2 separate regions of the Homo sapiens genome follow, and region 1 is linked to region 2. The links come from fine-mapping of genetic effects on gene expression. Tissue or cell type: whole blood. Region 2 holds a variant in brackets; the other region holds the start of a gene. All regions are shown on one strand. Distances are from middle to middle.

Evidence for each region. PIP is the estimated chance that this variant, and not a neighbour inherited with it, causes the effect. A credible set is the group of variants that fine-mapping cannot tell apart.
Region 1: SKOR1 starts here. The variant in region 2 is the best candidate, but not a certain one, in a credible set for the expression of SKOR1 in whole blood (TOPMed, PIP 0.54).

Annotation. Positions count from the first base shown.
Region 1 is chr15:67,824,316-67,827,329 of GRCh38, forward strand. SKOR1 (SKI family transcriptional corepressor 1) reads left to right here and starts at 1,194. Exons shown (of 9, transcript NM_001365915.1): 1 at 1,194-1,394; 2 at 1,621-3,014. The coding sequence starts at 1,288. It overlaps LOC124903570, which reads left to right. Exons shown (of 4, transcript XM_047433429.1): 3 at 324-1,087; 4 at 1,198-1,269. The coding sequence ends at 1,269. RefSeq lists an enhancer at 2,462-3,014.
Region 2 is chr15:67,783,134-67,785,633 of GRCh38, forward strand. The region is part of intron 21 of MAP2K5 (mitogen-activated protein kinase kinase 5); the gene reads left to right. Among named protein-coding and RNA genes, the nearest start is that of SKOR1, 41 kb to the right of the region's middle. The variant A/T (reference allele first, on the strand shown) is at 1,012.

The DNA.
Region 1 (3,014 bases), 41 kb after region 2:
TTGAAGAAGGTACAAAACAGATGAGAGAAAGAGGAACGAGCCGGCAGAGACAGCTCAGGGACAGATAAGATCGACAAATGAGGGTCTCCTAGACAAATAGAGAAGAAGGGAGAGAGACAGATAAACAGAAGATTCCAGTCTCCTTGCTGAAGGCTTTTGAACTGGGATCCCCTGTCTGGAGCTGCCCCTCTGAAAACGGAGTTACATTCAGGGCCGACTGCAGGGGAGGAGCCCTCAGGGTTGGGCTGCCCTGGCCGCAGGAGCGCCTGCAGCCTTGGGCCGGATGGGAGCCTGGCTTGTCTGAGGACATGTGGCTGGGTCAGGCGACCTAGAGGGCCCCAAACATCAGTCCCCAAGTACCCCCGCTGCTGAGGTCTGCCTGCACAGCTCCCTCCCTGCCTCAGCCAGAAAGCAAAGTGCAAGGACCAGCAGCAACTTGTGTGCCTGGAGCCTTGCAATGGCTACGAAGATGGCTGAGATTCCTTCTAGCCCATATGAGCCGGGACAGCGAGGCATGAAGGATACTCAGAGAGGTGATGCCCCTCAAAGAGGAAGCCCAGAGCCCCGAATCCTGCAGTTGGCCCGAGTGGGAAACGTATATCTGAAGGAGGAAAGCTCAAGGAGTGGGCGACTGGAAGCTAAGAAGTGGATCCCAACAAAGTTCCTTGAGAACCTCTCTGTCCCACACGTTGACCTCGGTGGAAACCAGCTTTGGTCTGGAATACAGCTAAAAATGCAGAAAATGTGGTTAGAACTGCAGGATCCTGGTCTCACTAATAGCTGGAAAGAAAACGGTTTATATATCCAGCCGAAATCTTTCTGCTCAACGAACGCGGGCGCCAGCCGTGAGAGGAGAAGCTCGGGTTTGTGGAAACTGGCAATGTTGTCCCCTGAAGCCGGCTCGGGCACCAAGCTGGGTGCGGTGGGGGCCGCGCTAGGTCCGGGTGCGCACCGAGCGCTTTGGAGAGGGTCAGGTTCAGCACCGCGAACAGCGGTAGCCTCCGCCTCTCTCCTTCCCTGGCAGACACGGTTCCCTCCTCCTTCTCCTCACCCCCCTCCTTCTCTTCACCCCCCTCTACCCCCTGCTGTCTGGAGATGGGCAGTGACCGCCCCTCCCCCCTCCCCACCCCTCCTTGCACTGCCCCCGCCCGCCCGCGTGCATGCGCGACTGAGCAGAGGGGCGGCCGATCCCCGAAGTCCGGGCTTCAGGACCCGGGCCGGCAGCACCGGCTGCGAGGGTTGCCGAAGGCGCACGGATCTGGGCGCTGAAAAAGCCAGGATTTGGCAATGGCTTTGCTGTGTGGCCTTGGGCAAGTCACTCTGCGTATCTGGGTTTCACTTCCTTCCCAATCCGAAAACGGGATTGGGTTCCTTGCAGCCCGGGCATTCCTGAGGTCTCCTTTACCCCTTCTCCTCCCCCAAGCCCCGGGGGCTGTTGTTAACGGCGCCAACATGGGTCTGAGTAACAAAAGACGCCTGTCCAGGGGGTGAATGAGTTTGGACTCCCCACTGCCAAGTATCCCCCGCGCGCCCAACTCGGAGCGCCCTGCTGGGCGGGCCCGAGCCTCGGCGGCGGCGCTGAAAATGGCTCATCTGCTCTCTGCTTTCTCTATTTCGCAGGAGCGGCGGCATGGAGGCTCTCACCACTCAGCTGGGGCCGGGGCGCGAGGGCAGTTCCTCGCCCAACTCCAAGCAGGAGCTGCAGCCGTACTCGGGCTCCAGCGCTCTCAAACCCAACCAGGTGGGCGAGACGTCGCTGTACGGGGTGCCCATTGTGTCGCTGGTCATCGACGGCCAGGAGCGCCTATGCCTGGCGCAGATCTCCAACACCCTCCTCAAGAACTACAGCTATAATGAGATCCACAACCGCCGCGTGGCCCTGGGCATCACGTGCGTGCAGTGCACGCCGGTACAGCTGGAGATTCTGCGTCGGGCCGGGGCCATGCCCATCTCGTCGCGCCGCTGCGGCATGATCACTAAGCGAGAGGCCGAACGCCTGTGCAAGTCGTTCCTGGGCGAGCACAAACCACCCAAGCTGCCCGAGAACTTCGCCTTCGATGTGGTGCACGAGTGCGCGTGGGGCTCGCGTGGTAGCTTCATCCCTGCGCGTTACAACAGCTCTCGTGCCAAGTGCATCAAGTGCGGCTACTGCAGCATGTACTTCTCGCCCAACAAGTTCATCTTCCACTCGCACCGAACACCCGACGCCAAGTACACGCAGCCCGATGCCGCCAACTTCAACTCCTGGCGTCGTCACCTCAAACTCAGTGACAAGTCGGCCACAGACGAACTGAGCCATGCTTGGGAGGACGTCAAGGCCATGTTTAATGGCGGCACGCGCAAGCGGACCTTCTCCCTACAAGGAGGCGGCGGAGGCGGTGCCAATGGCGGGTCGGGTGGGCAGGGGAAGGGTGGTGCTGGCGGCGGTGGCGGCGGTGGCCCAGGGTGCGGTGCAGAGATGGCCCCAGGCCCGCCGCCCCACAAAAGCCTGCGCTGTGGCGAAGATGAGGCTGCCGGGCCTCCGGGGCCACCTCCACCCCACCCGCAGCGCGGACTTGGCCTGGCGACTGGAGCTAGTGGCCCGGCGGGCCCAGGAGGGCCCGGTGGCGGCGCCGGCGTACGAAGCTACCCGGTGATCCCGGTGCCCAGCAAAGGCTTTGGGCTCCTGCAAAAGCTGCCCCCACCACTTTTCCCCCATCCTTACGGCTTCCCTACGGCCTTCGGCCTATGCCCCAAAAAGGACGACCCGGTTTTAGGCGCGGGCGAGCCAAAGGGCGGTCCTGGCACTGGGAGCGGCGGCGGCGGCGCGGGGACAGGCGGGGGTGCGGGGGGCCCGGGAGCCAGCCACTTGCCCCCGGGGGCAGGGGCGGGCCCGGGCGGCGGCGCCATGTTCTGGGGGCATCAACCCTCCGGGGCAGCCAAGGACGCAGCGGCAGTGGCTGCAGCGGCCGCCGCCGCCACTGTGTACCCGACGTTTCCCATGTTCTGGCCAGCAGCAGGCAGCCTCCCGGTAC
Region 2 (2,500 bases):
TTTATGTCTTAGCATCTGCTCTGTGCCCAGCATCCTGCCTGACACCGAGGAGGCAGCATGTCAGCCCCAAGTCCTGACCCCCCAGCCAGCTCACAGTCCAGTGAGGAAGGTGAGGGTAGACACAGCCAAGCACAGGATAGAATGTGAGAATTGCCAGAGACCCCCGCTCACCTTCTCCTCCCACCCTCACCTACCCCTTCACCTCAGGCCACTCCTGTGGAGTCCTGTGCTCCAAACTTCTGGCAGTCCCCAGATGCGTGAGGCATCCTCACACAGTCATGTCTTTGCTTGTGCTGTTTTCTCACCGCCAGATGGTGAACTTCTCCACCTCCGAAACCCAACTGGCACAACCTCTGTGAAGCTTTGCTAAGCGTGCTTCAGTTGGGTTGAGGACTTCCTTTTGCCTGTCACCCTTCACCCTGGCTAATACTTCTGTTAGTGCACTCGTCACGCTTTGTGGCAGTAACTTGTGGTAACAGTCAATAAAAGAGACCACAACCCCTCGAGGAAGAGATCATGTCTTATCTTTGTATCCTTAGCATCTAGCCCAGTCTCCAGCCTGAGTAGAATGCTCAAATATATGGTCATTGAATTTAAATGATATGAATTTAACAAGTGAAATGAATTTCTGCTAGGGGTATCTGGGGAGGCTTTGAGAATGGAGTGACAGGTGAGCTGGGACCCACGGACATTTGGGTATTTATGTGAGTATATTACTTTTCTGCACACAGATGTGAAAGGCAGCTTATATCATAAGTAAAAGTACCAGAGCCTCTAATAGCCACACTAGCCAGTATTCATACTACAATTTATTTTCTCTAAACAAACTTGAAGAGATTGAAGTAACAATTGCACCTAACTTGGGGCTGAAGATGAATCCAGAAAGGATCCTGTTTTATAATCTTTAAAAAATTGATTTATTATATAGAGAGAAATGGATCTAAACATAAAACATTTTAAACACTTAAGTTAGAGCATTCTTTCATCTAAGTTATCTCATTTGACCTTCAC[A/T]TGAACACTATAAGGATTATTCTTATTCCCATTTTACTGATGCATAAACTGGGTCTCAGAGAGGTTAATTTCCTTGCCTAGAGTCACACAGCCAGGAAAAACACAGGACTGTCCTACTGCACAACATCAAAGCTACACCCGTTGTTGCATAGTAGGCAGAGGATTGTTATTGTGGTTTAGAGAATTTCCGCTAAGTCAAACTATTTCTTGCAGTTAGAAAAATAAAGCTAAATACAAATACAGGACCACACAAACAAACTTGTAGGATTTCAGCAGAGTGTGCTTGTGAAGCCAATGCCCCTGTAGGATGCTTTGCTCAACTCCCTCCCTATGGTCCCTTCCACCTTGATGCCACAGGCTGCATCTGCAGGGCCGTGGTCGAGGCAGAGAGCAGATGGCTGCACACACTCTCCACCCATCCCCAGGTGGCAGGGTGGCCTGGTTGAAGCCTGAGCCTCAGTAGAGACAAAACACAAAAGAGGAAGTAATTACCAACAGTTTGCACCTGGTCTGTTAGTTGGTTATCTGAGGGGAAGCTGTGAGAATTTATGTAATCATTGTTTCTTTGGTTTTGGCAAAAACTGAGGGCAGAGTGTGTCCTGACAGCTGTCTGGTCACAAACCTTTCTGCCTTTCCACTTCTGCCATCATGGGTATAGAAATGGGCAACTTCCAAGAGATGATGTTCCTCAAGTTTGGGAGAAATTACCTTTAACTCAACAAACTTTTTACTGAGCACATTCGTGTTTAGCTGAACTCGGAGTATGGGCTGTGCACCAGTGGTAGTATCTGAACTGTTTGTTGTTTTTTCCCTGAGACAGGGTCTTACTGTGTCACCTAGGCTGGAGTGCAGTGACACGATCTTGGCTCAGTGCAGCCTCAATCTCCCAGGCTCAGGTGATCCTCCTACCTCAGCACCCGCCCTTCCTTGAGTAGCTGAGACTACACATGAACAACACTATGGCTAATTTTTGTATTTTCAGTAGAGACGGGGTTTCCCCATGTTGCCCAGGCTGGTCTCAAACTCCTGACCTCAAGTGATCCGCCTGCCTGGGCCTCTCAGAGTGCTGGGATTACAGGTGTGAGCCACCGTGCCCGGCCCCGAACTGTTTCTTAAACACAGGAAGATAAGGAATTTGTGCCAGGATATAAATCAAGCCTGTCTGAAAGCATTCTGTTTAGTTCAGTTCAGCTTTTTGGAGCAAAACGTTGTGAGCGAAGAAAGCTGTTTGCGGTTCACATTGCAGCATGGCTACTTGTATCATTGCAGGCCAGCAGCAAGCAGTTCACAGGACGACTACTTGAGTGGCACAGCTGTAGGGAATACAGAGGGCTATCAGACACTAATCCAGCAAACACAAATCCATCATACATGCAAACAAAGTAGTCAGGTCACACAAACAGGAAGCCAAACAATCGGGGTCCATCTTGAAGGGAGAGGGGAAACAGCAAGGAGAAGACAACCCACAGATGTCCACACCAACACAGGT